Linked DNA regions of Homo sapiens. The protein of the gene in region 4 interacts with the protein of the main gene of each other region in a pairwise test. Each region holds a gene or a part of one and is shown on either strand. Other genes may lie near its edges.

Evidence for each region.
Region 1: the proteins of IQSEC1 (region 4) and PRKN interact in binary tests that used the Homo sapiens proteins (3 or more experiments, as listed by UniProt).
Region 2: the proteins of IQSEC1 (region 4) and PINK1 interact in binary tests that used the Homo sapiens proteins (3 or more experiments, as listed by UniProt).
Region 3: the proteins of IQSEC1 (region 4) and PEX26 interact in binary tests that used the Homo sapiens proteins (3 or more experiments, as listed by UniProt).
Region 5: the proteins of IQSEC1 (region 4) and A2M interact in binary tests that used the Homo sapiens proteins (3 or more experiments, as listed by UniProt).
Region 6: the proteins of IQSEC1 (region 4) and SOD1 interact in binary tests that used the Homo sapiens proteins (3 or more experiments, as listed by UniProt).
Region 7: the proteins of IQSEC1 (region 4) and MECP2 interact in binary tests that used the Homo sapiens proteins (3 or more experiments, as listed by UniProt).

The regions. Positions count from the first base shown.
Region 1 is NC_000006.12:162,255,280-162,259,789, reverse strand, and holds part of PRKN (E3 ubiquitin-protein ligase parkin), read left to right. Parts: intron 1-4,510. UniProt on the Homo sapiens protein: Functions within a multiprotein E3 ubiquitin ligase complex, catalyzing the covalent attachment of ubiquitin moieties onto substrate proteins. Substrates include SYT11 and VDAC1.
Region 2 is NC_000001.11:20,639,958-20,643,457, reverse strand, and holds part of PINK1 (serine/threonine-protein kinase PINK1, mitochondrial precursor), read right to left. Parts: coding exon 3,466-3,500; intron 802-3,465; exon of another isoform or gene 340-801; intron 1-339. UniProt on the Homo sapiens protein: Serine/threonine-protein kinase which acts as a sensor of mitochondrial damage and protects against mitochondrial dysfunction during cellular stress.
Region 3 is NC_000022.11:18,087,450-18,091,959, forward strand, and holds part of PEX26 (peroxisome assembly protein 26), read left to right. Parts: intron 1-522; coding exon 523-626; 3' UTR 627-4,510. UniProt on the Homo sapiens protein: Peroxisomal docking factor that anchors PEX1 and PEX6 to peroxisome membranes. PEX26 is therefore required for the formation of the PEX1-PEX6 AAA ATPase complex, a complex that mediates the extraction of the PEX5 receptor from peroxisomal membrane.
Region 4 is NC_000003.12:12,930,017-12,934,526, forward strand, and holds part of IQSEC1 (IQ motif and SEC7 domain-containing protein 1), read right to left. Parts: intron 1-4,510. UniProt on the Homo sapiens protein: Guanine nucleotide exchange factor for ARF1 and ARF6. Guanine nucleotide exchange factor activity is enhanced by lipid binding. Accelerates GTP binding by ARFs of all three classes.
Region 5 is NC_000012.12:9,073,869-9,078,378, reverse strand, and holds part of A2M (alpha-2-macroglobulin isoform a precursor), read left to right. Parts: intron 1-521; coding exon 522-678; intron 679-958; coding exon 959-1,033; intron 1,034-1,442; coding exon 1,443-1,623; intron 1,624-3,595; coding exon 3,596-3,819; intron 3,820-4,510. UniProt on the Homo sapiens protein: Is able to inhibit all four classes of proteinases by a unique 'trapping' mechanism. This protein has a peptide stretch, called the 'bait region' which contains specific cleavage sites for different proteinases.
Region 6 is NC_000021.9:31,665,618-31,669,997, forward strand, and holds the end of SOD1 (superoxide dismutase [Cu-Zn]), read left to right. Parts: intron 1-831; coding exon 832-901; intron 902-1,640; coding exon 1,641-1,758; intron 1,759-2,853; coding exon 2,854-2,961; 3' UTR 2,962-3,314; downstream 3,315-4,380. UniProt on the Homo sapiens protein: Destroys radicals which are normally produced within the cells and which are toxic to biological systems.
Region 7 is NC_000023.11:154,031,698-154,036,207, reverse strand, and holds part of MECP2 (methyl-CpG-binding protein 2), read left to right. Parts: exon of another isoform or gene 1-2,284; intron 2,285-3,650; coding exon 3,651-4,001; intron 4,002-4,510. UniProt on the Homo sapiens protein: Chromosomal protein that binds to methylated DNA. It can bind specifically to a single methyl-CpG pair. It is not influenced by sequences flanking the methyl-CpGs.

The DNA.
Region 1 (4,510 bases), on a different chromosome or scaffold from region 4:
GGTGATACATGTTTACTAAATTGCTTCAAATTGTAAACATAGTCAGTCATTCAACAGAACTCCTGTGCATTTAGCTTTTAGAGCGAATGCTTTATTTAAAATTATACAGAGAAATTGAGATTTCATCTCTTCAAATGTCTTGGTTCATTCTTGGTTTGAGTTAAGACTGAATGGAATGATTTGAAATGACTATATGCAAACAGTATGCCTATATGATTATTTTTCTTCACTAAAAATGATAGCGTAAAGTTACTAGAGCAGAGATTCACAGACTCTCATGTGCAGAATTATCTTGCATGTTTTTCCATGTTTCTTTGATGGCCAGAATGGCGAGAAAAAAAATCTTCTTTCATTCTTTTTCTGTGACCAGAAATTTTGATGTATTTGTCTGGGGGTAGAGGCCCCAAAATGTTGGTACTGACCATACTCTGAGAAACTCTGCCCTATGGCTAAGGTTTTCCAGCCTTACAATTATGGATCCTACCTGTTGTTCTCACGGAACAATCGGACGCTGGGTGGGAGAACAGAGGCAGGTCGGTGAGAGGTGAACACACCAAGCCAATCACAGCAGCCTGAGACCATTCCTCTTTACGTACTTCACATATTAAACACATAAAACATCTATCATTTGAAAAGATGAAAAAAATCCTTGGTTATACAATGTTTGAAAACCTGTGCCTCAGAAAAAGAGATTAAAAGAAATCCCAATTTTCTGTGCTTCCAGAGTCTTCAATTTTAACTTCGAAGAATATAAGTGCTGGCTGGACGTGGGAGGGCTCTAATGGGTGAATAGCTGGGCTGTAGCCTCATATGTTGTCGAAACAAATGGAAACTTCTGAAACCCGAGAAGGTGCCTTTCAAGTATTTTTAGTTGGCAAAAGATAAGTGGTCAACATGAGAGGTGATAACATGATGTACATGAAGAACCAGTTACACTGTTGGTACTAAGAACGCAAGCATGTCACACTAAAGACTTGTAAGAGGACGTCAAAGAACTGGAACGAGTCATTGAAGTAGTTTTTACAGCAGTGCCACTCAAGCTTTAGTGCTCATCAGAATCACCTGAGGACCTATAAAAGCACAGATGACTGGGCCCAGACCAGTTGGCCTTGGATGGAAGCTGAGAAGTTGCGTTTCCAGCAAGCTCCCAGGTGATGCTAACACCGCGGGCCCAGGGGCTGTGCTTTGAGTAGTACTGCCCGAAATAGTAAAAAATAGTATTCCTTAAAATATGGTCAGTGAATAAAATCTATTTTTACTACATTTTCAATAAGAACGTTGAGCTGCACCTGGGCTCCAGGGTGCCTGTGTGTAAATTACCTTCATGTGTTATTGGTGTTTCCTAAATGAGGCGCCATTCATCATCTCCTGACAGATGAGATGAAGCTATTGGACCTAGCAAAAAAATAGGAGGCTCCTCCAATATCCGTCATACAGTTAACGAACTACATAAACAAATAACGATTGAGTCCTTACTCTGTGCCAAGCACAGTGCCAGGTACTGGGATGTAGCAGAAAATAGAAACAGACAAGATGCCTACCTCAACGGAGCTATTCTATTTGGAGCAGCTAGTAAGTGTGTGTTCTATCGAGAAACAGCAGAGTCAAGGGGACAAAGAGTATTGGTGGGGAGTTCCGTAATATACAGCAGCCGCGAGGCCTGTGTGATGAGCTAAACTGTGAGGAGGGCACCCTCAGGGAGCATCCATTTGTGTGCCAAATGGCAGAGGCGACAGCAACTCGTGAGCCCCAGGCAGGCCCCCGCCCAGAAAACGCAGCAGCCAGTATGGGGTGGAGCTTGGAGCAGGTGGAGCTCGGAGAAGAGGATGTCAGAAAAAGGGCAGGGTGGAGAGGTCAGGTAGGGTCTGCTGGGCCCAGGATTTGACCCTGTTGAGAAAATTTGACTTTTGAACAATGGAGTGACATGATCTGACTTCAGGAAGCCTCATGCTGGCTGCTTGTGAAGGAACTGCAGGAGGAAAGGGTGGAGGCAACACAACCCGGAAGGTTTTCAAATCCTAGAACTGCTGCACTGCCCAGAACATCGCGAACGGGCCATACCTGCAGGCGGTGTCGGTGAGTGCTTGCCGCAAACCTGGCACTATAGAAACCCTGTTTCCCTGAAATACCTCTTTTAATTCCTTGCAGCCTTGTAAGGTAGACCATGTTCATATCCTCTTTATAGATGAGGAAACTGCAGAGACCACTTGAGGAACCGACCCAGACAATTCAAGCCGTACCCAGGGACCGTCTCACTTCAGAGCTTATGTAAAATATCCAGTAGCCTGTGTTTTCCTGAATATAGCTATCAGGTGAAAGGAAATTTTGCATTTCCTCTAGATGTTTTGGTTAGAAAGTAGATATAGTCTTAAAATGGACCTTTTTGAAGAGTCATGTTAATTGATTTCAGCCAAGTAGTCAGATTTTAAAACTATATCACAAGGTATACTACTTTTTCAGAATTTTTTGCTTTTGAGAAAAAAAAAAGAAAAACTGTGGCCACGCTGGCCAGTCTGGTCTGGAACTACTGACCTCAGGTAATCCACTGACCCCGGCCTCTTGAAGTGCTGGGATTACAGGTGTGAGCCACCACACCCAGCCCCATGTTTTTGCTTATATGCTTCCAAAAGGAGAGGAGACATGTCATGAAATAGAGCGGGAAGGAGTGTCAGCATGCAATTGACAAAAAGCTGCGGAGAGGAATACCATGCCGGGGCAGCACAGGCTGAGGCTGGCCCCGTCTACCTTGTGCTTTTGTTCGTGCCTGTTTGGGTTCATGCCTCTGTGGGAATTGTTTTGCTTTTTGTGGTTGGTTATCTGTTTTGAAACATAAAGAAATAAAAAGTAACTGTGGGGGAGAGTAGGTGAGAAATGACAGCATTGGTTGTTGAAGTTAAGTAAAGTACTTGTAGGGAGCCTCAAAATGTTTTGATTTTTCTGAAGTCACCTCTGCAAGGTCATATTGTGATTTCAAGGGGAAGGGAGACATTGCATTCAAGACTCCATGAGGCCTGGCTGGACAGTGTGCTCTTCTAACGACAGGCCTCTACAAATGGTAGTGTCTGGGTGTCCCTCTCCTGGAGGCCTACATGGCCAGTGAAGCAAATCATTTACATCTTTTACTCTTCAAACCCTGAAGTGTTTCAGAGGACACTGCCCATATGCCAAGATGGGGAGATCTGCACTTGACAGGAATGAGCGTGGAGGCAGGGTATTTACAGCTGGGGAGGTCCATCTTGGGAATCATCTGAGCATCGTAATTATTGCAGAGTCTGCCAAAAATGCAGGCAGGCTGCTGGATTCCACTTTCTTAAAGGGAAGATAAAGAAAAAATTTCAAATTAAGTGGTAGAATTTAACTGTCTGTAATACACTCTTTTCAATCTTTCTAAATTTGTTCTGAGTAAATAAGGACTAATGGAAATTTTGTGAAATTTTATAGAAGGTGTTATTTTGTATGACCTGTAGCTTCCAAACATTTCATACATAAATCAAGAATTTATGGTCTACTTATGTAAGAAAAACAGAATTAATAAAATATCTATTATATAATAGAAAATGAAACCCTTATGACAAGGAAAATATCACTACATTCTTTTTTAGAGTACTTTTTGATAATTTCACAGAATCAGGCCCAAACTCCTACACCTTCTTCATCTATTTGACTATAATTAATTTTCCAAATGATACCTCTGATGCTCTGTAAGATCTTACAATTCTTCCTCAATCCCCAAAGGTTGACTACCTTTGGTGTTAGAGGTGTGTTATTAGATTCTAATTCTTTGCAAATTAATGCTCAATCTTTTCTGTGCATGATAATTAAACTCACTAGAGTCCCAGTGCATCAGTGGGGTTGTGATTTGCTTCCTGTAAGAAGGGAATCAAATGGCCGATAATTTACTTCAGTGGATTAAATGAAAATCGTTTGAACCAGTGTTTACCACAGTTCCTGGTATATACTACGCACTGAATACAGAATTTTTGTTGCTAGAAAATGCAGTCAAAAAGGGTGACAGACATTGATTTTGAATCCTTGAGCGCATTCATGGTACCTGGGCTGTGATGTGTCTGCCATGCAAATGCTAAGCCGACTGGCAGTAAGTGTGGGCCCCGGAGCCAAGCAACTTAGCCCGTCTTGGCTCTACTTCTTGCTACCTCTAGGACTCGGAGAATTTACTTTCTTGCAGTCCAAAGTGTGATCTGTGGGCCAGCAGCAGCAATTGGGAGTTTATCAGAAATGCAGAATCATTGGCCCCCTATCAGACCTACTGAATCAGTAACCTTCATTTTAATAAGATCCTCAAGTGAATAGTGCACTGTTTTGTTTTGTTTTTAAACATACCAGGCCACAGTTTCCCCATTTCTCATACAGAGATAAGGAAAAAGTACCTAACTCATGAAGTTGATGTCAGATACTTCGTGACAAGGGCCTAGAGAAAGGCCTGGAATATACCAAGTGCTGACTATCTGTTATCCATTTCAGTTATCCCTTTGCTTTCTAGTTCACATGT
Region 2 (3,500 bases), on a different chromosome or scaffold from region 4:
ATATGGGTGTAATAAACCTTTGTTGAATAAGTGAATAGATCCAGATGCAGCTAGTAGTGGTAGTGTCATCTGCCTGCCCTGGCTGCTCCTTATCCTGTGGGGAGCGCCCCCCGACCCCCAAACCACAGCCCTGCTGAGGCACAGTGGCTGGATTTTGGATGGGGTGGCTCTGCCAGCTGTGTGCCAGCCCTGCCCTTCAGCCAAAGCTGACTGGCCCAAGGAGTCACCTGCCCCAACGGCAGTGAACCTACAGTGACACTCGAGACCCAGATGGTTGGACGAAGGGAAGGGAGGGAAGTAGATTCTCTTTTTGGGAGTGTGAGTGAAGAAATCTGCCAGTCTGCAGTGGAGAGGAAGCCACGATACTTCACTGGGGCCATGAGGAGCCAGAGGTGAGCAGGCCAAAGGGAAGCAGGAACAGGAGATGCGAGGAAAGAACAGCATGTGGACAGTGGAACCACGTTCCTACAAGTTCAAGAATCAGTAACTGATGGAAATTCCCGTGGCTCACTCCTGTAATCCCAGCAATTTGGGAGGCTGAGGCAGGCAATTGCTTGAGCCCAGGAGTTCGAGGCCAGCCCGGGCAACATGGAGAAACTCTGTCTCTACAAAAACTACAAAAATTAGCTGGGCATGGTGGCATGTGCCTGCAGACCCAGCTACTTGGGAGGCTGAGGTGGGAGGATCACTTGAGCCCAGGGAGGTTGAGGCTGCAGTGAGCCAAGATCACGCCACTGCTCTCCAGCCTGGGCAACAGAGTAAGACCCTGTCTCAGAAAAATAAAAGAAAATTTGAGTTTGCAGAAACCACTTTCTGAAAGGCTGAAACTCCCTCTGCTTATGAGATAAAAGAACTGGCTGAAATTGGTTGGAACCAATAAGGCCAATTGCAGCTTGCACAGAACAAGTTTGCTGATGTCAAAGCCTGAATTGCCACTGCACGTTTCATACTCACTCCTCCCAAATCTGCACAGGGGACCCATGAGTTGGCATGAACAGATAACTGTGCATGTCCAAGGACTGTCCAGACTTCTCCTTTCCTTCCATCAATCACCTGCTAATCTTAGAATCCACCCCTTAAACCTCCTCTAATAAAATTACCGCCTTAAAGCTAGCACAGGGAGACAGGGTTGAATTCAACTCCTGTCTCCATATGAGTCGACTCACAATAGAAAGCTTGGCTTTTCTCAAAAATCCAGTGTGACTGCTTCTAGCACATCAGGCTAGAGCCCCCTTTGCTGCATAACAATGGTGGAGGGAAGCGAATGGGGCAGAGCCTAGACGGTGCTGGGGAGAGAGCAGGGCACCGGCCTCTCCCAGCACTGCATGGTCCCCAGGCTGTGTGGCTGCAGTCCACGTGTGCCCACGCGCTGCTCCTGCTCTTGAGTCAACCTGAGTGGCCCCTGTTCTATGCAATCAAAGGAGCCAGAGCATCGTTTCCACCCTCGGGCCCCTGGGCAAGTCATGATCACAGCCCCAGGCTGTCAGGGCCCCAGCAGGTGTCATGGGAGCTCAGGGGCAGAGGAGTATGGCTGTACTGGGGAGATACATGGTGGGGTTGCGGGTGTCTGAACTGAGACCTGAAATGTGGGAGGAGGGCAGCCCAGGTATAGCCAGCTGTACGCTCAAGAGATGGTCACAGAGAAGCCTGGCACATTCGGGGAAGGAGCTATGAAGCCAGCGTGGTGGAGTGTAGGGTGCTGATGAGAAGGGTGAGAGATAAGGCGGGAGACGTGGTGAGATGAGCAGGTTAAGCGCCTTCAATCTCTGGGCCCCAGGAGAGCAGAGGCTAGGAGGAAATGAACCCAGGGTGTTCTTGGGAAAGCTTCTCCCAAGGTGTACCAGAAGTTGAGGTAATGTACCTGCTGCCACATCTATCCGGTCATTCAACAGGTATTTACTGAGGGTATGCAGTAAACAAAGAGTGTTTACAGTACAGCTGGAGCAAAAAGGAACCAACAGAAAAAGACGTGTTATTTGAGGCCAGACAGTGAGAACTGCTAAAGGAACAAAGTCCCTGAAGAGGGACAGGGACTATGTCAGATGGGAGGTCTCAGCAGCAGACATCATGGTGCTCCGGCAGCAGGACAGCACCACGTCGGCCGGCTGCCACTCATGCCACAAAAGGAGGCATCAAGGATCATGTTAGCCCCAAAGCAGCTGACATTCAGGTGTCCACTTTCTCCAAAAAGGCCTCAGGAGAAGCAGCAGCCACTTGAGCAGCTACCTCCACCGGCCTGCAGGGACTCCCAGTCACATTGGAAACCTCCAAACCATGGAAGGGGTTTTCCACAACCACTCCCTTAATTTCATACTTTTGCCTCCCTGCTTCTGACAGAATGAAGATCTATAAACCAGCCCTCCAGTAAATCACCAAAAATGCAGCAGACCCACCTCTTCTTGGTGGGTCTACAAATGAGAGACAGGGTCTCACTCCAGGGTCGCCCAGGCTGGAGTGCAGTGGCATGATCTTGGCTCACTGCAGCCTCAACCTCCCTGGACTCAAATGATCCTCCCGCCTCAGCCTCCTGAGTAGCTGGGATCACAGGCATTTGCCCCCATGCCCGGCTAAAATTTATTTTTTGTAAAGGCGGGGTTTCACCATGTTGCCCAGGCTGCTCTTGAACTCCTGGGCTCAAGTGATCTGCCTACCTCAGCCTCCCAAAGTGCTGGGATTACAGGCATGAGCCAGGCTGTAAATATTGAGGTGGGCACAAGTATCTCCTCTGTCATAGCCTGCGCGTCAGTCCTCACCACCTGTGGTGAGGCTGGTGGTGGACATGGGCTTTTCTGAGCTGAAAGCGTAGCTGCTGTTCACTTGCTCTTCCCTCTGCTGGGAATGCCACTTCCCTACTCCTCTGCCCAAGTAATGCCAATTCATCCTTCACAAGGTGGCACAAACTGTCCCTTTGAGAAGGCTTTCTGAGCAGCCCCTCCTCTGCAGCACACGCCTCCCCTGGGCTCCCTCAGCCCAAGCATACTCGATTCTAGCACTTACACCCTGGGCTCTCTGCTGCCACACTGAGACCTCTGGGCCAACAGACCACTTTTTGTTTTTTTTAAAATCTCTTGGCACCATCAGTGCACATAACTATTAGTGAAATGAGTGTTCCCTCTGGTGGGGACAGAGTTCAGTTTATTCCGATAGGTGGCGCTCTACCCGTGCATTTCTTAGGAGGAATCTGAGAACCCCAGTCAATCATGCAACACTGTGAACTGGGCATTTTTGGGGGGCCTCCTCTCCCCTGCTCCAATGTGAATTACGCAAGTGCATCATCATTTGGGGTCAGATTACCTGCAATCTTTCCCAAGTGAAATTATCCACTAACTGAAAATCCATCACCAACATTAAGCCTTTATTATCTACTGTCATATCAGACACTGTACCAGGTGCTGAGGACATAAGTGATGGATGAAGTTGCTCTCAAAGAAGTCCCAGTCAGTCTGGCAGGCAGAGGGCACTTACCTGTAAGTGACTGCTCCATACTCCCCAGCCAAGGC
Region 3 (4,510 bases), on a different chromosome or scaffold from region 4:
GACGACTCTGTTTGCTTTACAAAGAAGTCACGAGTTAGCGCTCGGAATGCTCAGTATCATCAGCGTTCATCCCTGGCCACCTCCTGACTGATACAGATTTAGAAACTCTTTATGATTCTTTATGGTTCCCGTAAGCCCTTTAGTCTCGTAAACCCTGGTCTCCTAGTGGGGATGGCATGAGGACATTTGAGCCTGCTCTTTCCAAGGCTGCTTCAGAAGGGCCTGGCCCAGTGGCCCTGACCCTCAGCAGCAGGCCCGACTCATTGGAGTGATGATGGTGGGGGAGGAGAACCTGCACCTGCAGGCTGAGGATCGCATGAGCCCCAGAGATTGAGGCTGCAGTGAGCTGAACACAGACTGCACTGTACTCTAGCCTAGGTGACAGAGCGAGACCCTGTCTCTAAAAAAAACAAAACAAAACCAACTATGTGTAATTGGTAGTGGAGTCTCCCAGGGTGGGAGATGGCAGAGTGACAGGTGAGAGGGGTGGGACGTTCACTGTAGTCTCCCTCTGCCCTGCAGCTTCCCCTTCCTCCCTGCACTTCCTCTACAAGCTGGCCCAGCTCTTCCGCTGGATCCGGAAGGCTGCATTTTCTCGCCTCTACCAGCTCCGCATCCGTGACTGAGGGTCCCTGCGCACCACAGCCTCTCTGCTCCTCACGTCCGTGGCCACAGAAGCAGAGCGACAGAGCGACACATCCACAGGCGCCCCTGGGGAAATGGGACCAGCCTAATCTCGCGGAGTGCACTGTGTCTTGCTGCCTGGGTGCCCTCTCCTTTGCACCCTACTTCGGCTGGTCGCGGTAGATGATGTGGAAACAAAGCAGGACCAGCAGGCACAGCACCTCCAGAACAGTGCCCCGGATGACCAGAGGCCCCTTGAAAAGGAGGGGTTTGGGGACAGGGACTGTGTCCATGAAACATTCCATCTTCTTGGTGAAGGCAAGGGGTTGGTTCTTCAGGTCAGGATGTTAATGGAGCTGGAAGTTCAGAAAAAGCCTGGTGAAGTGACCCTTGGCCTTTCACTTCTTGAGAAACATACTTCTTTGCTGGGCATGGTGACTCACGCCTGTAATCCCAGCACTTTGGAAGGGTGAGGTGGGTGGATCACTTGTGGCCAGGAGTTCAAAACCTGCCTGGCCAACATGGTGAAACCCCATCTCTACTAAAAATACAAAAATTAGCTAGATGTGGTGCACGCCTATAGTCCTAGCTACTTGGGAGGCTGAGGCAGGAGAATCACTTGAGCCAGGGAGGCAAAAGTTGCAGTGAGCTGAGATTGTGCTACCGCACTCTCTCAAAACAAACAAAAAAACATGCCCCACAGGACAGTACCTTAATTAGCTAGAGTAGATCTGAGAGGGCCTCTTCTTGCCTGCACTGTGCTCCCCAGAGCTGATCTAATTCTGTATCAATAGGCTGTTCCCATGGTCTTGCCATGCGCTTGAAGCTGCAGGAGCCTTCTCACTGTTCAGGCTGGGGTGTGGTTTTCAGAACCACCGGGTTGACTACTGAAAACCAAGTGAGCCTTACAGCTCTTATCGCTGGGTAAAGTGATCTTGCCTGGTGCCTCTTGGTCTTCAGCTCAATTTTCCAGGTTGTCCTGGCCAAGTCTTGCTCTGTTACGCTCAGTGCCTCTGCCCACTCTTTCCCCGCCAGCCCTTCCCTCCCGCCCTGCAAACTTGTCCCTTGGCTGTTTCACCAGGTTCTGCCTGTATCCTTGCCTCCTTGGTACACACCATTTCAGGTTCTTCCCTTTCTGTGTCCCATTGTCCTAGTTATGTTCTGTTGTTTGTGTAATGCCCAAATTTTTCTGCTCGTGTGGCCTTGAAAAGTAGGCCAGCCTCAGAGGCTGCTGAGCTGAAAATGGAACTGAGTAATCAGGTGAGCTGGAAGGGATGTGGGGGGCGGGGCAGACGGGAGACATGGGTTTTGAAGGCAGTGAACAATAAAACCTTAGGGAGGTGGCACCGAGGCCTTAGCATTTGAGGAGCTGAAATGTTTCAGTGTTGTTTTCTCACCAGCCACAAGCATCTTATGAGTTTCTGTGCAAGGAAGCGTAGAGCACTGCTGTGCTGTCAGGATGAAGAAGGGCTTTCTGCAGGGGCTGGCCTTTCTCTACCCAGAGGCCAAGCAGGCTGCCCTGCACTGTGTCCTTGGTGTTGATGCCCAAAATAGAGAAGGTGCTTGCTAGCTTTTCCTTGGTACATTTTCGGGGGTTGCAAGGCAACAAGTTTTCTTTTGTTTTGTTTGTTTGTTTGTTTGTTTGTTTTTGAGATGGAGTCTCTGTCACCCAGGCTGGAGTGCAGTGGCGTGATCTCAGCTCACTGCAAGCTCCGCCTCCCGGGTTCATGCCATTCTCCTGCCTCAGCCTCCCGAGTAGCTGGGACTACAGGTGCCCACCACCTCGCCTGGCTAATATTTTTGTATTTTTAGTAGAGTCTGGGTTTCACTGTGTTAGCCGGGATGGTCTCGATCTCCTGAACTTGTGATCCACCCACCTAGGCCTCCCAAAGTGCTGGGATTACAGGTGTGAGCCATCGCGCCCGGCCAACTTTTCTTTAGAAAAATGAGTAAAGTAGGTAAACTTCACAGGCCCCTTAGAATTAAATCCTTAGGGCATGGTTCAAGTCTGTAGGAAGCAAATCTATACTTTTTTATATGGGCTTTTAAGTAAAGCTTAGAACCCTGGGGGGAGAAAAGCAGTCAGGTGAGGTTTGAGATTCCTTCTATAGAATGATTTCTTAAAATGAAAATCTGGGCCCACTTAACTACCCTAGATAAAACGCTTCAATGGCTTCCCATGGCTCACTGGATAACATCTAAATTCTTCATGGAATTGAAGGCCCCTATGTGCTGGTTTTGGCTAAGATCTCCCCTTTGATGTGGGTCCCCTGTTGATTATATGTGCGGCCTTCCAGCTGCCCACCATCACAGCTACAGCTCGCTCCCCTTGGCCTCTGTGCCTTGGCTCGCACTGTTCCTACTGAAGGCCTAGCACCTGCTCTTGGCCTGGTGAGCCCCTCCACCTTCCAGGCTTACTCAAAGAATTCTTTCTGCCCCTCCCTGTGTCCCGGGACCTGTTTCATATCGCTTCTGTGGTCGTGACCCCATGGTCTTGTAATTGTGAACTTCTTTGCTGCCCCTTCGAAGCTGGGGAGTGCTTGTTGCAGATGCATCCAAGAGGGGTAATTGCGTATCAACAGTGGATTTGCTGGTTGTTTCTACAGGGTTCTGAAGCATGCAACATAGAACAGATACCTTTAAATTTAGGGGCGCTAAGGAAAGCAGGAACCAGTAATCCTCTTCTGTGGTGGGATGGGAGGGTGGGGGAGAGGGGTGGAATGGAGAGGAAACAGGCTATTGTTGGCCAGCCCTGGGTGGAGGTGGGTGCAAGCAGGACAGATAGTGCCTGGGGGTGGGGGCGGAGGGTTCGCCTCTAGGAAGGGGCTAGAAGGGATGAGGAAATAGTTCATAGCTTCGTGCAGGTGATCCCTATTCTGCGTGTATGTGTTTGCACATGAGTGTTTGTAGACCATAGACCATTAAAAAATACGGAATTCAAAAGTTACAAAAAGGGTATTCTTGGAAAAGAAAGTTGTTTTTTTTTAGTCTTGCTGTGTTGCCCAGGCTGGACCTGAACTCCTGGGCTTGAGCAAGTCTTCCCCTCAGCCTCTGGAGTAGCTGGGCCTACAGTGTGTGCTGCCACACCCAGCTAATACAGTCTTTCTACTCCCGCTCTCTATTCCCCAGTTTCTTGCCCAGAGGCAACCCTTGCCAGTCTGTTTATCCCTCCAGATACAGTCTCTGATAGTAAACTTTTCTTTCTCTTACACAAATGATAGTAGTCACATACACTACACACACTGTGCCACGTTTAAAAAGAAAAAAAACAATTCTCGGCTGGGCGCGGTGGCGCATGCCTGTAATCCCAGCACTTTGGGAGGCCAAGGTGGGTGAATCACCTGAAGTCAGGAGTTCGAGATCAGCATGGCCAACATGGTGAAACCCCATCTCTACTAAAAATACAAAAAAAAAATGAGCCGGGCATGGTGGTGGGTACCTGTAATCCCAGCTACTCAGGAGGCTGAGGCAGGAGAATCACTTGAACCCGGGAGGCAAGGGTTGCAGTGAGCTGAGATCGCGCCATTGCACTCCCACCTGGGCAACAAAGAGTGAAACTTGGTCTCAGAAACGAAACAAAACACAAAAACCTTTCTCAGTCCCAGCATATGTGGAGCAGCCTCATTCTTCATAGCTGTGTGTCATTCCGTTGCGTGATGGGGTCACAGAGCACAGACCTGGTGCCCTTTTCCTTTTTAATATGTGGAAACCCCTCCATGCTTTCCAAAGCCTACAAGTACAGCAGCCCCAAGTTTAGGGTGAGCAGCAGTGGTCAGAGCTCTTTACTATTACTTTTGGGCAAACGCAAGCCAGGCTGGCAACCACCACTGCCGCCGAGGGGAGATACAAGCAGGCCAGTTCACACTCTGGACGTTCAGTTTCTTTC
Region 4 (4,510 bases):
GCAAGCTGAGCTGCTGGTGGGAAGAGTGAGCTGTGTGAGGCTCTGAGGAAGAGCTGCTGCAAGGCTGTGGATTGCACGTGGGGAACACCTACCTGCTGGAGCAAAGCACTGAGTGCTTACCCTGGTATTTTCCCAGCAGGGGTGTGCAGGATCCAGGAAAGGGTTCTCTCTCTCTCTTTTAAGACCCAGGTCTCACTATGTTGTCTAGACTGGCCTCAAACTCCTAGTTTCAAGTGATCCTCCCGCCTCAGCCTCCCAAGCAGCTGGGACCACAGGCATGTGCCATTGTGCTTGGCTCCAGTCCTTTTTAACTGTTCAGGATGCCTAAGAGATGTGGAAGTGGATGGATGCCCAAGCACCTAGCTTCAGCCCCCAGGTTTCCCAGCCTACCCTCCAGCTCAGGCCCTAAGACCTAGTGGGCAGATTCTACTCTCTGCTCCAGGCCAGTCAGAGCCCTGCATCCTGCTTGCCCAAGTGGTTCAGGGAGAGGCACAAGAGCCAGAAGGAGCCGATGAGGGGAGGAGAATCTCTCTTCCTCCTACTGGGGTTGCCTTGAGGTCAGACTACAGGCCTGGGGTTCTCTGATGGCCCTCCTGCCCTGGGTCAGGGAGGATCTGGCAAGGGGCAGGGCCAACCCTAAGCCAGATGGAGCCAAGAAATACCCGGGACTTTTCAGGTCCGTGAACCAGTAAAGCCTCTTTGCTTAACCCAGTTTGATAGAGTTCCTGTCACATGCAACAGAGAAGGCCATGATTAACGCAGAGACCAACACAGGGTTTGGAGTGCCCGAGGATCTCCGTGGTCAGAGGTCTGAGCCCTGGTAACTGTTAACTGCTTGTGGGGGTGAGGATAGACTCACCAACTTCAGCATTCGGAGAGTCCCTGCACACCTGAAAATGCCCTTCCAATGCAGCAACCTAGGGTCCTGCAGAGAGGTGCCACTTCCAGCCTTTCCCACACTGCCAGGGCCAGCAAGCTCGCCACCTCCGGAGGCTGCCTGCTCCACCAGCTCTGACTTTTACACGCACTTTCTGGTAGCGTGAACCCAAGTGGCTTCCCTGGTATTGATCCCAGAGAGAAGGCAGGAGAATCACCCTCTGAAGTGTGGCAAGCACCCCCTGCAGGGCTTCCCTTGGCACTGTCTTCTTCTCCAAGACTCAGCACCAGCCACCTCAGACCCAGGCCAGGGCTCGGGATCCTGGGCTGCGGGTAGCATCAAGGGCCACAGGCCACAGTGGCCTGTGTCTAGGGGAGAGGGGTCCCAACCTCCAAAGACCCAGCTCAAAGTGCTCCTAAGAGAGCCCATCCTTTCCATCATCAGCACCACAGGCTACGGGAGCAGCACTGCACATCCTCTGGGCCCAGCACTTCTGGTGTGTGGCCTTGAGCTTGGGCCTGGGCTCTCAGCCTCGCTGCCTGCACCTACGCTTCCCAGGATGGCTGTGGCGAATCAGTGAGACAATAGGCGGAAGGTGTTCGGCATGGGGCCTGGCGCTTGGTCCAGGCTCTGCACAGGCCGGCTCTGCTCACTGCTATTTTTATCAATGACAGCAGACACGTTAAACACAAGGAGCACAGAGCTGGAGCATGCAGATCAGGGGTACTCTCTGAGCCCTGTTCCCACAGGTGGAGGGGAATGGCCCCCTGGGGGCGCTGGAAGGGTGAAACAGCCACGCTCCCTGCAGGATCCCAGTGACAGCATCCCCTGCCTCCCTTCTGCAGTAGCTCCAGCAGGTGGATGGGACCCGAGGCTGCTGGGCCCCAGGGGCTGGGCGCCGAGTGTAGGGGAGGCCAGGTCCACAGAAGGGGGCTGCCTCCAGGTACAGGGCCCTGTGCTGGAAGGGCCTCAGAGGCCCCTGTGGAAAGCTCTTAGCCAAGTAGTCCAACCACACTGTCACACCAGGTGGCCACCCAAGCCCTGCGTACATGTTTCTCAGAGACAAGCTTCTCACTCCTTTTTGAGGGTGCCCGTGTCATCATGAAGCAGCTCTGGGGCCAAGGATGCTCTTGCAGAGGTGGGAGAGGTCTGGTGTGGCTCACCTGTGACATGGTCACCTGGGCTCATTCCAGGGAGGAATGTGACAGACAGAAAGTGGACATAGCCAGGCATGTACCCCTGACGGTGTGTACCAGGTACAGGAGCAGGAGACGCTGGGGTGGGGTTCCAATGCGGAGGTGACAGACTCAGTGAGGTCCCTGCTGGGCACCTGCCCCAGCTCCATGTGCTGCAGGGCTGCATGGCGTCCCACAGATGGTGTGGCTCTGCCTCCTGGACTCAGTTTACAGATCTGTCACCCAGTGAGGAGGTAGGGAGCCCAGGGATACCTGTGGTAGCAGTTCCTACATCATGGATTTTAAGAGGATGTGTTCAGGAGCCAAGTGGCCAGGGTGTGACGTCCCTAGTCGTCTACCAACTATGTGAGACTCAGCTCACCCACTGCACAGGGTAACGTGCGTTAGCGCGTGACAGGCCCTGGGAACCATGCCTGGCGCACCGTCAGCACATGGAAGGATTAGCTATTCTCGTTATTTCTGACTGCTTGGCCCATCACAATGCCTGTTTGGGTCTTCCTAAAGCCCAGCCCTGGAAGCTCCCTTCCCTTGGCACTCTGGACACAGAAGCCCTTGCTGACCACAACAGCTGCCATCCACTGCACAAACATGTTCCGGGTGCAGGCAGTGAGGCTCAGAGAGTTCAGGGAGTTGCCCCAGGTCCCACAGCTGATAGGTGGCAGATCCAGGACTGAAACCCTCCTGCCTCTGGCTCCTGCACCCCTGCCCTCCCGCAGCACCGCCAGCCAGATCAGCTGTGTGGCTGTCAGCTGGGCCAGCTGGGAGTAAGCGGCAGATGCCCAGAGGAACATCTGGAGGCCTGGTAGACCTCGGCAGCCCCCGGGATGCCCTCCCCACCAACCTACACCACTTTCTCAGGCTTCGTTTCTGTTCTTCCTCCCCGCTTGCTGCTGGCTCTCCCACTTTGGTACATGATTCCCTTAAAGGGGGCGTCCCCCCAGACAGAGGCCTGTGCCAGGAACGCTCACTGCTTCGTTGCTAGGAAGGGGTGGGAACTGAGAGCTGTGCTGGAGGCCGGGCAAAGGCCGGGACATACCACCCCGCAGGGAGAGAAGTGGAGGTGGTACACAGGCGCAGGGCCAAAGAAAGGGAAGGGAAAGGGCAGTTCCTCCTTCAACTAAAAACGTGCCTAGCTAAGACCCAGCAATTCCACTTCCAGCCATATGATCTAGAGGCCTGCCAGGTGTGTGTGTAAGGATCACAACCACTGTCACACTAGTGCTAGTTATGAAAAGCTAGAAGCAACTGGCCAAATAACCTATAGCCACGGCGGGGACTACCACTCAGCAGCACACAGGAGCAAGACAGCCTGTGTGTAGAGCCCAGCGATACCCTCATAAGACAATGTCACAGTCCCGCGCCCTGAGTGATGTCAGCAAGGATCCAACAGTAGCAGCTAATACATAGTAAGGCCCTATCCTGTGCCACGTCCTGCTTTCAGCACTTCACACAGACCAACGCTTTACCCTCACCGCCCTGGGAGGAGGGTGCCCCTGGCATCAGCCATTTCACAGATGCGGCCACTGTGGGACGGGGGGTTATGCTGCCCAAGGACATAGAGATACGATGGGGCACAGCCAGGATTTAAAGCCAGGCAAGCAAGCCCCAAGCTGTGTTCTTAACCATGGCTGTCTAGAGTTCCTAGAAGTGCACACAAATGCACAGGAAAAAAATCTGGAAGGAGAGACTGCAACATGCTGAGTCCAAGAGGATGTTATCCTGAGCTGCAAGGCATGCATTTTCTGTGAAGAATGTATTCACGTGCTACACAGATAATTAAAAGTTAACTGAATAAGAAAGAATCTACACAGACCAAAGCTGGCTGGTTGAGGGAGGTGGTTTTTCCTGGTTTCCTGTCTCCCCACTGCTGGCCTCCACCTGTCCACTCTGCAGGGACCCCTGGTTATCCCAGCCTCCCCTCTAGGGCACATGGGCCTGGGTCGAGAGATGATCCTGGAGCTCGGCTGTGCCCAGGAGCAGTGGGGACAGACTTCAGGGACCGTGTCAGGTGGGCCAGCAGGATGCAACCCTCCCCTGTCCAGCGCATTGCTCCGGCCGTGGCCTGTGCAGCAGTGAGAGCAGCCGTACTCTGCAGCAAGCCACAGGCAGATCACAGGCTCAGGAGAGAGCATCCTGGTAGATGTGAGATGTCCAAGACTCTTTGTTCTTAGCTGAGCAAACCAGTAAGCCATTGCCCCTTACTGGCCCCAAGTGAATGCACCATTCCCCAGAGGCTCTTCCTGAGACAGGCCTCTCTGACATCCCAAGATAGTGCTTCCATGTGTCCCAGGAATGGCTCAAAAGCACCATCTCCCCCAGTCTAGAAGAAGAGAGAACAGGGGGCAGACGGAGCAGGGAGCCAGCTCAGGCACTGGCTTTGAGGTGGCCAGGTCCCACTGCGCCATTCATCACCCTAGTTTGACCTCCTGGGAAAACT
Region 5 (4,510 bases), on a different chromosome or scaffold from region 4:
AAGAAATGAAATCATGTCCTTTGCAGGGACATGGATGAAGCTGGAAGCCATCAGCCTCAGCAAACTAACACAGGAACAGAAAACCAAACACCACATTTCTCACTCATAAGTGGGAGTTAAGCAATGAGAACACACGGACACAGGGACAGGAACAACACACACCAGGGCCTGTTGGGAGGTGTGGGGTGACGGGAGGGAACTAAGCGGATGGGTCAATAGGTGCAAGAAACCACCATGGCACACGTATACTTATGTAACAAACCTGCACGTTCTGCACATGTATCTCGGAACTAAAATAAAATTAAATATACTAAGACTCCCTGTGGCAAAGAGAGAGTTAGCAAGGAAATACTACATCTAGCAGATTAATCAGGCAGACTAAAGATTAATCAAGGAGATAAGCTCTCTAAGTACACAAGAATTTTGTTAGCTAACTCACATCATATGAAGCCTGTTGCTGTGAAGTGGTTATAAAACCATTTTGACAACATAAACATCATGATTGCTTCCTCCCTGGTCAGGCTCACAGCCTTTGTTCTGAAGACTTTTGCCCAAGCTCGAGCCTACATCTTCATCGATGAAGCACACATTACCCAAGCCCTCATATGGCTCTCCCAGAGGCAGAAGGACAATGGCTGTTTCAGGAGCTCTGGGTCACTGCTCAACAATGCCATAAAGGTGAATCATTCTGGAGCTAGTTTTGATTTGTCCATTATGATATCTGCAAGGATGAGGATAGGAAGTGATAATGTGAAAAATTCTAAGGGAAAGCCTCAGAGGAAAATAAAACCTGGATGGCACCAAAAAAGAGGGGATAGAACAAAAGTTGATTGTGATACTTTGCCCTATAGGGATGGATATGGGTAAGGATGAATTCCATGACACAGCAGAATAGAAAGAACTAATCAATAGCATTCTCAGAAGTTGAATTATTCAGATCTCTCTCTCGTATTCACAGGGAGGAGTAGAAGATGAAGTGACCCTCTCCGCCTATATCACCATCGCCCTTCTGGAGATTCCTCTCACAGTCACTGTAGGTACCACCCCATTCCTCTGCTGAAGGAGAGTTCTGGATGCAATGAAACTGCTGACCTGCTGTCTGAAATACTATCCTATTAAAAGCAAAGCATCAGCTTTCTTTCTATGCAATGCCAGTGCTTCCCAGATCTACAGAGAATTTGGTCAGCCCATTAAGAAAGGTTTAAATTTTCCCAGTAATTCCCCTAGGCTATTTACCACCACCACTCAAAAAAGAATCTTAAAGATGTATCTTTTGAATGTGAGAATAACAGATAAAAATAATATTATATCTATTGATAAGAATGAGGAATCGTTGGAAAAATGCGTTTGAAAAACTTCTGTGCTGTGATCCGTGTATTTGCCTGGGAATGCTAATATGCCTGTTTACATAGCTTAGTTCCCTTCTTGTTCTGCCTTCACAGCACCCTGTTGTCCGCAATGCCCTGTTTTGCCTGGAGTCAGCCTGGAAGACAGCACAAGAAGGGGACCATGGCAGCCATGTATATACCAAAGCACTGCTGGCCTATGCTTTTGCCCTGGCAGGTAACCAGGACAAGAGGAAGGAAGTACTCAAGTCACTTAATGAGGAAGCTGTGAAGAAAGGTGAGAGCACACCTGAGATCCTTCTCCTGGCCCATCCTCTGTATCAAGAACTGCATGGCAAAAATCCCTCACTCCTACCTCCTGTGATCCCTGTCTCCTCTCTTCTTTTCTATATATCATATATATTTTGTCCATATTGCATCTTATAAAATCTAGGATTTCTTAATCAAATCAGAAATCAGAAGACAAGAGGCCGTGCAGATGCTTCTCAATTACGATGGGGTTATATCCTGACAAACTCATTGTAAAGTCTAAAAAATCTTAAGTGGGACCATTGTAAGTCAGGGACCATCTCTATAGTATGCTGGTAAGAAGAGCATTCTCTGGAGACTAGCTCCAAAATGTGCTACCTATGTGAGCTTGGGAAAGTCATTAACTTCCTTGTGTTTCAGTTCCTTCATCAGTAAAATGGGGATAATAATAGTATTTACCTCACAGAGCTGTTGTAATAAATGAATTGGTACACGTAAAACACTTAGTAGAGTACATGTCACATAGCAAATCCTATAAAAGTACTAGTTATTACAATTAACATATCAGTTCTCAATATATGCCCAACCCTTACCTGGTACATTATATAACCTTAAACATAAGAAAATAATCATGGAAGTAACTCCTTGAATGAATTCTGGTATTTTAAGCCCATTTCATAAGACCAATAATGTTGACCAATCTACTCATATTCACACAGTACTTCTACATATACCATGGTCTATATGAGCGGTTGAAGAAATAGAAAATAAAATGCAAATCACAAGATGTCCATTAAAACAGTCTACCTTTTTCCTTTGACAGCCATTAATTCTTCTTAAAATGTATTGAGAAATATTTTATAATAGATATACAAAAGGGCATAAGCTATAACTAGAAAACACTGTACAACTCTCTCATAGATTAAGAAATAGAAAATTACCGACATGGGAAAAATAAATCCCTTGTGTATCACTACCACCTCCAGAGGCAATCATTATCCTGAATTTGTCGTTACAATTCCATGGATTTCCTTATATTTTTGCTGCATATGTATCCCTAACTAATATTTAGAATCTTCACATGTGTTTCATCTTGAGAGAAACAAGATTTTTATTTCTCTCTTATTCAAGAAACAAGAGAAACATTTTTGAATATTTCAGCAGCTTAGTTTTTTGTTTGTCTGCTTTTTATTTTCTAAGTTCAACACTATGTTGATGAAGACCCCTATACAAGTATGTGCAGAGTCAGCTCATTAATTTTCACTGCTGCATAATATATTACAGTCTATAAATTAGTCATAATTTACACATCGAGTTTCTCCTCATGGATTTTTTTTATGTTTTGCTATTAAAAAAAATGCTGCAATGAATACTCATGTGCCTGTTTTCTTGTGCATCTGTGTTTCTCCAAATTATGCTTTGAGAAGCATAATGACTGATTAGTGGGCTAAGCACATCTTCCCCATTGCTGAATATTGCCAAAGAGCAGTTGGCTTCCCACAGCAGTGTATATTGGTTCCCATTGTTTCACATCCATGTCAGCCTTTGGTATTTCAAGGATTACTGTATTTTTTTTTTCAATTTAATGAGTAGAAACTCTACTATTTCATGTGATCTGTGATCCTCACAAGAAACTGATAAAGACACACTTTATAGGAAATGTAACAAACTCCAGCTATAGTCTAATATAACATCATAAATAGGAAATAGCCAGACTCAATGAGACAACTGCTGTGCCATTTCTTTCTCCCACCAACCCGACTATAGCAACGATTTGAAAACATAGATAGGCATAGGCTTCTGACTCCAGCATCAATATCTGCCTTAGCTGGGCTAAAACACACCAAATTCAGATTTACATGAAGGGAAAAGCATCTACATACAGTACAGGGGATTATAATGGGCATGCAATTCTCATTTCAGCACTGGCTTGGGTACTTTCACCTTGAATTAAATATAAATATGTAGGCACTTATAAATATCTTTTTCTCATCTTTAAGACAACTCTGTCCATTGGGAGCGCCCTCAGAAACCCAAGGCACCAGTGGGGCATTTTTACGAACCCCAGGCTCCCTCTGCTGAGGTGGAGATGACATCCTATGTGCTCCTCGCTTATCTCACGGCCCAGCCAGCCCCAACCTCGGAGGACCTGACCTCTGCAACCAACATCGTGAAGTGGATCACGAAGCAGCAGAATGCCCAGGGCGGTTTCTCCTCCACCCAGGTTGGTGATTTGCCAAAACCTTTTATTTCACCTTCAGGTAGCAAAAGATTTGAATGAAAAAGAAACAAACACATCCAAGAAGAAAAAAATACAGATGACAGTAACTTGAAATGAGGAAAAGTTTTCAGTATCCAAGGATAATGGAAATAAAAGCAAATCAAAGTCAAAGAGGGCCAAAAGGAAATGCTCAGAATCCCGGCACCCCATCGCTGTGTTATTATCCATCTCCTATTTCCCATAACAACACTGCCTTCCTCAAGCAGCAGTGGAGCACCAGCAGAATGAAGGAGATGTCTCCTGCCATTCTCCTGAAAGCTCTAGGGTCTCTTTCAAACTGTTCAAAGGAACTCTACTCAAAATCCAACAACCTCTCCTCGCAAATCTCTCCATTCTTAGGTCCCCTTTAATAGGCTTTTCTCAAAACTACACATTTTGTGCTTCCCCTATTCACCTTTTTTTTTTTTTTTTTTTTAAGACAGAGTCTTGCTCTGTCACCTAGGCTGGAATGCAGTGGTGCAATCTCGGCTCACTGCAACCTCCATCTCCCAGGTTCAAGCGATTCTAGTGCCTCAGCCTCCCAAGTATCTAGGATTACAGTCATGTGCAATCATGCCTGGCTAATTTTTGTATTTTTAGTAGAGACGAGGTTTTGCCATGTTGCCCAGGCTGATCTCGAAGTCCTGAGCTCAGG
Region 6 (4,380 bases), on a different chromosome or scaffold from region 4:
AATGTCATCCCCTGGTGCACAGCAGCACCTTCTACACAGGATACAGTTGGAATGCCGCCCCCTCGAGTTGTGTAAGGCAGCAGCCTTGGCCCTTGCACATAAGATGCTGTTGAATATTCTGCCTGCACCAAGTAAAGGGCACAGATAGAACTGCTTGGCATATGTTGCTGGGGAGATGAGTTTTTTGTAAAGTATACTACGTTCTTAAGAATTTGGATCATAACCATGGGATTTTAATAATAGAAAAACTGTTGAAGATCAGTCTGGTCCCTTATTTTTACAGTGAAGAAGCCAAAGCCCAGAGAAGGGTGTTAACTTTACAAGTGTCAGACAGTAGTTAGAACTTGGTGGGGTTTTTTTTTTTTTTTTTTTGAGATGGAGTCTTGCTCTGTTGCCCAGGCTGGAGTGCAGTGGTGCGATCTCAGCTCACTGCAACCTCTGCCTCCCAGGTTCAAGCGATTCTCCTGCCTCAGCCTACTAAGTAGCTGGGACTATAGGTGCGCACCACCACGCCTAGCTAATTTTTGTATTTTTTCAGTAGAGACAGGGTTTTGCTATGCTGGCCAGGCTGGTCTCAAACTCCTGACCTCAGATGATCCAGCCACCTCAGCTTCCCAAAGTGCTGGGGTTCCAGGTGTTAGCCACCATGCCTGGCCATAGACTTGTTTCTGTTCCCTTCTCACTGTGGCTGTACCAAGGTGTTGCTTATCCCAGAAGTCGTGATGCAGGTCAGCACTTTCTCCATGGGAAGTTTTAGCAGTGTTTCTTTTTAGAATGTATTTGGGAACTTTAATTCATAATTTAGCTTTTTTTTCTTCTTCTTATAAATAGGCTGTACCAGTGCAGGTCCTCACTTTAATCCTCTATCCAGAAAACACGGTGGGCCAAAGGATGAAGAGAGGTAACAAGATGCTTAACTCTTGTAATAATGGCGATAGCTTTCTGGAGTTCATATGGTATACTACTTGTAAATATGTGCTAAGATAATTCCGTGTTTCCCCCACCTTTGCTTTTGAACTTGCTGACTCATCTAAACCCCTGCTCCCAAATGCTGGAATGCTTTTACTTCCTGGGCTTAAAGGAATTGACAAATGGGGACACTTAAAACGATTTGGTTTTGTAGCATTTATTGAATATAGAACTAATACAAGTGCCAAAGGGGAACTAATACAGGAAATGTCATGAACAGTACTGTCAACCACTAGCAAAATCAATCATCATTGTGAAACATAGGAAGCTTCTGTAGATAAAAAAAAAAATTGATACTGAAAACTAGTCGAGACTCCATTTATATGTGTATGTTTTCTGAAAGCCTTTCAGAAAAATATTAAATTTAAGGACAAGATTTTTATATCAGAGGCCTTGGGACATAGCTTTGTTAGCTATGCCAGTAATTAACAGGCATAACTCAGTAACTGAGAGTTTACCCTTTGGTACTTCTGAAATCAGGTGCAGCCCCATCTTTCTTCCCAGAGCATTAGTGTGTAGACGTGAAGCCTTGTTTGAAGAGCTGTATTTAGAATGCCTAGCTACTTGTTTGCAAATTTGTGTCTACTCAGTCAAGTTTTAATTTAGCTCATGAACTACCTTGATGTTTAGTGGCATCAGCCCTAATCCATCTGATGCTTTTTCATTATTAGGCATGTTGGAGACTTGGGCAATGTGACTGCTGACAAAGATGGTGTGGCCGATGTGTCTATTGAAGATTCTGTGATCTCACTCTCAGGAGACCATTGCATCATTGGCCGCACACTGGTGGTAAGTTTTCATAAAAGGATATGCATAAAACTTCTTCTAACATACAGTCATGTATCTTTTCACTTTGATTGTTAGTCGCGGTTTCTAAAGATCCAGATAAACTGTACTTGCAGTTCAAATTAGGAAAAGCAATTTTATTGGACAATTACGGTGAAAATGAATTATTTTATCTAGGTCAGTTAAGAACACTGTTCTGCTAAGATGCAGTAAAAAGCAGGTTACATTTGACCATATTAGATCTGAGTTTGGAAAACAGAAGTAGTCTTTAGTTTTAAAATGGCCAGATTTTCTTGCCAGGATTGGGTTTCTCACTTGTTAAACAGAACATTTTGTTAAGTTTAAAACCTGGGATGGACTTAAGTATTCATGTTCATTCATGTTCATTCAGGACTGCAGGTTATCATGACTTGTTTAACTTGTGGGAAGCTGTTGTCCCAAGTTATCCTGGGGAACTGCATCTGGTTCTTGCAAAACACCAAGTAGACAGGCTCTCTTTTACCTCCCCTTGAGGGCATTAACATTCAGTAGTCACTTCCATTCAGTTAACCCTTTATTTTTATGGTTTTTCTTGAGCCATAGTTGTAAAGCAGAAAAATCATTTATAAAGGTTTGTTGAACAAAATTCAAAATACTGTTGCTTAAAGTATTAAGATTTTTTAGGATTATACCTTACTTATAGGCCCGTCATTCATTTGGCATGAAATTTTGAGTTTTATTCACTTTCACTTTCCTTTTTTTCCAAAGCAATTAAAAAAACTGCCAAAGTAAGAGTGACTGCGGAACTAAGGTTACTGTAACTTACCATGGAGGATTAAGGGTAGCGTGTGGTGGTCTACAACATAGTTATTTGGGTTTTAGTATTTCATTTAGACAGCAACACTTACCTAATGTTTAAAGGTAATGTCTTTGCAACACCAAGAAAAAGCTTTGAGTAGTAGTTTCTACTTTTAAACTACTAAATATTAGTATATCTCTCTACTAGGATTAATGTTATTTTTCTAATATTATGAGGTTCTTAAACATCTTTTGGGTATTGTTGGGAGGAGGTAGTGATTACTTGACAGCCCAAAGTTATCTTCTTAAAATTTTTTACAGGTCCATGAAAAAGCAGATGACTTGGGCAAAGGTGGAAATGAAGAAAGTACAAAGACAGGAAACGCTGGAAGTCGTTTGGCTTGTGGTGTAATTGGGATCGCCCAATAAACATTCCCTTGGATGTAGTCTGAGGCCCCTTAACTCATCTGTTATCCTGCTAGCTGTAGAAATGTATCCTGATAAACATTAAACACTGTAATCTTAAAAGTGTAATTGTGTGACTTTTTCAGAGTTGCTTTAAAGTACCTGTAGTGAGAAACTGATTTATGATCACTTGGAAGATTTGTATAGTTTTATAAAACTCAGTTAAAATGTCTGTTTCAATGACCTGTATTTTGCCAGACTTAAATCACAGATGGGTATTAAACTTGTCAGAATTTCTTTGTCATTCAAGCCTGTGAATAAAAACCCTGTATGGCACTTATTATGAGGCTATTAAAAGAATCCAAATTCAAACTAAATTAGCTCTGATACTTATTTATATAAACAGCTTCAGTGGAACAGATTTAGTAATACTAACAGTGATAGCATTTTATTTTGAAAGTGTTTTGAGACCATCAAAATGCATACTTTAAAACAGCAGGTCTTTTAGCTAAAACTAACACAACTCTGCTTAGACAAATAGGCTGTCCTTTGAAAGCTTTAGGGAAATGTTCCTGCTTAGTCATTTTAGCATTTTGATTCATAAAGTACCTCCTCATTTTAAAAAGACATTATGATGTAAGAGAGCCATTTGATAACTTTTTAGTGAGCTTTGAAAGGCAAGTTACAGCCTCAGCTAGCTAGTAAGATTATCTACCTGCCAGAATGGCACAAATTCTACATTCAAGGGTAGACGCTGGCACAACCTACTTACAGATTAGCCCTTTAAAGCAATCTGTAGCATTAGAAGATGGAACCAAGGAAATGTTTGACTGTGGGTTCTGGCTGTTGAGAAATAATTTACACACCGAATTAGTGAAATGAGTCACTTTCTCTTAATGTATTTATGTACCTGAGAGAATGCTTTTCAATGTTAACCTAACTCAGGTTTGACTAAATTATTCAATTGGAAATTGTAGAATATTATTTCTGATAAACCAGAAATAAGTGAAATGCTGTTTGTTCATAAATATGTACTTTATCAAATGTAGGAGAGATCATTTAGGAGAGGAAAAGCTAAATTGGAAGACAAATCTGTAGTGTTTCCAAAGTTTTAAAATTATGGTAAACAACAGTATGTTCACAGTAAGTGGTTAAAACAACCATTCTTTAAATCTCAGTAGAGAATTTTTAAAAAGCAGTATTTAACACATTTCCCTAATGTAGTTTGTTGCCTATGTGGAATAACTCAATTAGAGACTCACTTATGCCTTTTGAAACTTCAAATATAATTACACTACCAGTTTTTACATGTGCATATAGGATGGTCCCAATACTTTAAATTGGAAATACAGGCTGTAAGTCCTTCAAGTCTGGATGTTGGGTAATCACGTTTTCTTCCAGAAGCCATTTGTTAGGACTTTAAAACTTCTCAGTGGGCCAGTG
Region 7 (4,510 bases), on a different chromosome or scaffold from region 4:
CCTGGGCCACACCTGGACCACTGCTAGAGGCCTCTCATGGGCCCTCCCTGTTTTTCTCTTGCACTCCCCGGGCTTTCTGGCACAAGATGCCCCAGAAGCAGAATCACATATCTCTCCTGGGAGCCAATCTAGTGTGTTTACTGCCCCTGGAGTGTTATTGTTGGCCTTAGAATATGTCCCACTACAGGTTTGCAGAGCACTGTAGTCAAAAGTCATTTGAAATAAATCTTTTCTCTGTGGTATATTGTCAATTTGATATAGAATTAAATTTGTTTCTTTTCTTTTTTCTTTTCTTTTTTTTTTTTTTTAAGAGACAGGGTCTTGGCCAGGCGTGGTGTCTCATGCCTGTAATCCCGGCACTTTGGGAAGCCAAGGTGGGTGGATCGCCTGAGGTCAGGAATTCAAGACCAACCTGGCCAGCATGGTGAAACCCCGTCTCTGCTAAAAATACAAAAATTAGCCGGGCGTGATGGCAGGTACCTGTAATCCCAGCTACTCGGGAAGCTGAGGCAGGAGAAGGCTTGAACTCAGGAGTCGGAGGTTGCAGTGAGCCAAGATCACGCCATGGCACTCTAGCAAGACTCTGTCTCAAAAAAAAAAAAAGAGAGAGAGAGAGACAGGGTCTTGCTCTGTCACTCAGGCTGGAGTGCAGTGATGTAGTCATGGCTCACTGCAGCCTCATACTCCTGACCTCAGGTGATCGACCCGCCTCGGCCTCCCAAAGTGCTGGGATCGTAGGCTGAAGCCACCATGCCTGGCCCGAACTCATTTGTTTTTATTTGCATTAAGTGTAATAAGGTTTTGTTACTTTTAGTTTGAATTTTATTTTGGGTAATATAAACATTTACATGATTCAGAAGTCAGAATTACACTGAGGCATGTTCAGCTAGGCCTCACTCCTGTGCCTGTACCCTTACCTTTTTCCCCCTACCCCATGCAGGGAATCAATTTCATTAGTTCCTGGTGTGTCCTTCCTTAATACCCCCCCTTCTTTCTTTGGTAGAATGCAGTAGATATGTTTGCGCTTTGCTCCCTTTGCTTCACAGTGGATCCTGGAAATGACTCCATCGCAGTTCTTAGAGCTCTTGTTTAGTCCCTTTGGATCTGCACAGTACTCCAGTGTGTGGGCGCACCATAAGTTTATTCAGCAAGTGCCCTGGTGATAGGGATCGGGGGTATTGGAAGCCTTTGGCTGGTAAAAATAATGTTGTAGCAAATAACATCATGCATATGTTCTTTGAGATTTCTGGAGGTGTCTCTTTAGCATAGATTTCTAGAAGGCATTCCTTACGTCACGTTTAGGTTTATAGTTTGACCTCATGGTGATTAAGGTATTTGGGAAATGCAAATGAGAGTTTCGAAGAAGCCAGATCTTTCCCATTAGTTCACTGTTTTTCTCTGACATTAGGACCGTCCGGGTTCTAGGGAGCAGCCCTGGCGTTAGGCAGTGCCATGATGGATTGTGTAGAAGTAGCGATTCCCATCTGTCTGCTTTCTTGGCCCACTCTGCTGGTGGCTCCCCTTCCCTCCCTCCTTTATGGGGAGCTGGGGAGCTGCCTAGGGGTCCATTCTCAAAGGCTGATCTCTGGTGGGCAACAGGCCACACCTAGCTTTCCAGGGTTCTTCGTCATTTCCCATTGAGAGCTGTAAGACTCAGAGACATGAAAAGGAAGCTCTGGCTGGGCACGGTGGCTCACGCCTGTAATCCCAGCACTTTGGGAGGCTGAGGCGGGTCGATCACCTGAGGTCAGGAGTTCGAGACCAGCCTGCCCAACATGGTGAAACCCCGTCTCCACTAAACATACAAAAATTAGCCTGGCGTGGTAGCACACGCCTGTGATCCCAGCTACTCCGGAGGCTGAGGCAGGAGAATAACTTGAACCCGGCAGGCGGAGGTTGCGATGAGCCGATATTATGCCATCGGCAACAGAGCGAGACTCCATCTCAAAAAAAAAACAAAAAACAAAACAAGGCGAGCTCTGTGCTGGGACAGATTAGGGACCCCTCTTTACAGCAAGAAAGACTGCTCTGTGGGTTGTAGGATGCCTTTGTGTATGCAGTGGCTCTAGGTGACTCTGGCAGCCACACTCTGGGCCCTAAACTTCTGGAGGAAGATACAGGATAGGGAGGAACTCAGGGGTGAGTCATGGTGGGGACAAGACATTCCCTCACTCTAAGACCTTGTCACTAGATTGGAACATCTCTTGCCTCCCTACACCTGACCTGATGGTTCTGGAGAGATACGTCCTTGCAGCTTCTGAGTCCCAGCACTAAGCAGCCTTTGGTAACTTCCCTACATCATTTGAGTTCTGGTTTCCTAAGGATGCTTGCCAGTGAGTGCCATGGTGCCCTCATTGCACAGTCTGTGCAGTGTAGACAAGAGGGGAAGTCTCTTGGGGTAGACCAGCCGCAAGGCGGTGACTAGCACTGATGTGAACCACATGGGACAGGGGAGTTGTGGGGCTGAGAACACGGAGGGTGGGAGTAGTCATGCTCTTTTCCAGAATGAACTGCTAACGAAGGGACTCGCAGGTGGCTGCTGCTTCTTTCCAAGCTGCCCCTGTTGTTGCAGAGGCTCTGGAGTCCTAGGAGGTTTCACGGTGGCATACTCGACAGAGTACTAGAGCATCATGGCCAGATAGTGATGCTGGGGTGTGGGGCCTCACGGTGGCCATTTCTGACGAGACCCCACCGGGCCAAAGTGATGTGTAGAGAAGGAGCTGCTTCGGTCACCAGAAAAGAACGGGGAAGCCTCCCACACTAGAATAGGTAGGGTGCTCTTCTCCACCGGCAGGAAGGGGATGTATGGCTCTGCCTGGACCACACCTTTTTCCTTGCTCTTCCCTCCGCATCTGCTGTGGCCGAGGCCATTCCTCATCAGGGAACATGTGTTAGAGGCTCACGCCACCTGGGACCACTTGTCTTATCACCCCCAGGACCCTAGGCGGTAGTTTCCTGTGGCCTGAGTTAGCTGATATTTATATAGTGCCATTGTGCCTTTTCTCCTGTGATGCTCACAGTAAGGATGCCTAGATGGGGTTACCTGTTGTCAAGATAAGGAAACTGAAGCACAGAATGCTGAGGTCATTTGCTGGGTTCATGTTTGGAAAGCGGCAAAGGATTTCAGTGCAGGTTGGCTGGCTCCAAACCTGTGTGTGCTTTCCATGACACTGTACTGTGTGCCTCATTGAGCCTCATTCTAGAAAACCAAAAACACACCCAAGGCCCGGCCTTCACAAAGGAGACCCCTCCCCCATTTGGCTCCCTTTCCAGCAGTCGACGGCCTCTTGTCAGCCATCGAGCCCAGAGTCCCTTGAAGTGCGACTCATGCTGGGGTGGTATGCTCAGGAGCCGCAGTGTTTCCGCTCAGAGGAAAGGGCTCTGATTCTCCTGCAGTGCTAGGAGACTTGTGGGTGGCCACAGTGCAGGTCAGGCACACCGGCCAGCACCACCCACAGCCCAAATTCCTAAAGAAATATTTGGGTCCCAGCTTGGCCCGAGTCTCTGTTGTCCTGGGGAAGGACATCAAGATCTGAGTGTATGATGGCCTGGGGCCTTGCATGTGGTGGGGGTCCAAGCCTGCCTCTGCTCACTTGTTCTGCAGACTGGCATGTTCTCTGTGATACTTACATACTTGTTTAACACTTCAGGGAAGAAAAGTCAGAAGACCAGGACCTCCAGGGCCTCAAGGACAAACCCCTCAAGTTTAAAAAGGTGAAGAAAGATAAGAAAGAAGAGAAAGAGGGCAAGCATGAGCCCGTGCAGCCATCAGCCCACCACTCTGCTGAGCCCGCAGAGGCAGGCAAAGCAGAGACATCAGAAGGGTCAGGCTCCGCCCCGGCTGTGCCGGAAGCTTCTGCCTCCCCCAAACAGCGGCGCTCCATCATCCGTGACCGGGGACCCATGTATGATGACCCCACCCTGCCTGAAGGCTGGACACGGAAGCTTAAGCAAAGGAAATCTGGCCGCTCTGCTGGGAAGTATGATGTGTATTTGATCAAGTAAGTAAGAGCAACTCCTATCTCTACAGGGCAGGGAGGGCAGGGACAAGGATCCCTCATGGAGCAGGAAAATGTATGTGCCCAGGGTGGGGTCGGGGGGAACATAAACAATGAACACTGAGACCAGGTGTGCTTGAAATGACCGTGTACAGAGGTCGCTGCCCTGAGTGGGAAGTTCTCAAGGTAGCAGGCCCTCTATCCTCTCCACACCTCAAGTCTTTATCTGGGGATGGAATAGCTGCGGAAGCAGAGGAACTTGCAGAGCTAGGGGTTCAGAGGGGTGAAGAAGCATGTTTCAGTTCTGCCTTTTAAATGATCCCAAAAAGGTTAGCAGTTTTCAAATGACATTTGCAGACAGCCTCATTTAATTCCATGAGAAGGGTGAGCAAAGGATTATCTTGTTGAAACTGATTCCTGGAGAGACTGAGCACCGTACCTGAGTTCAAACTTGGGAATGTTCTAGATGGTGACTCAGGCCCAGGCACCAACCAGCAGAATGGGCCTCAGCC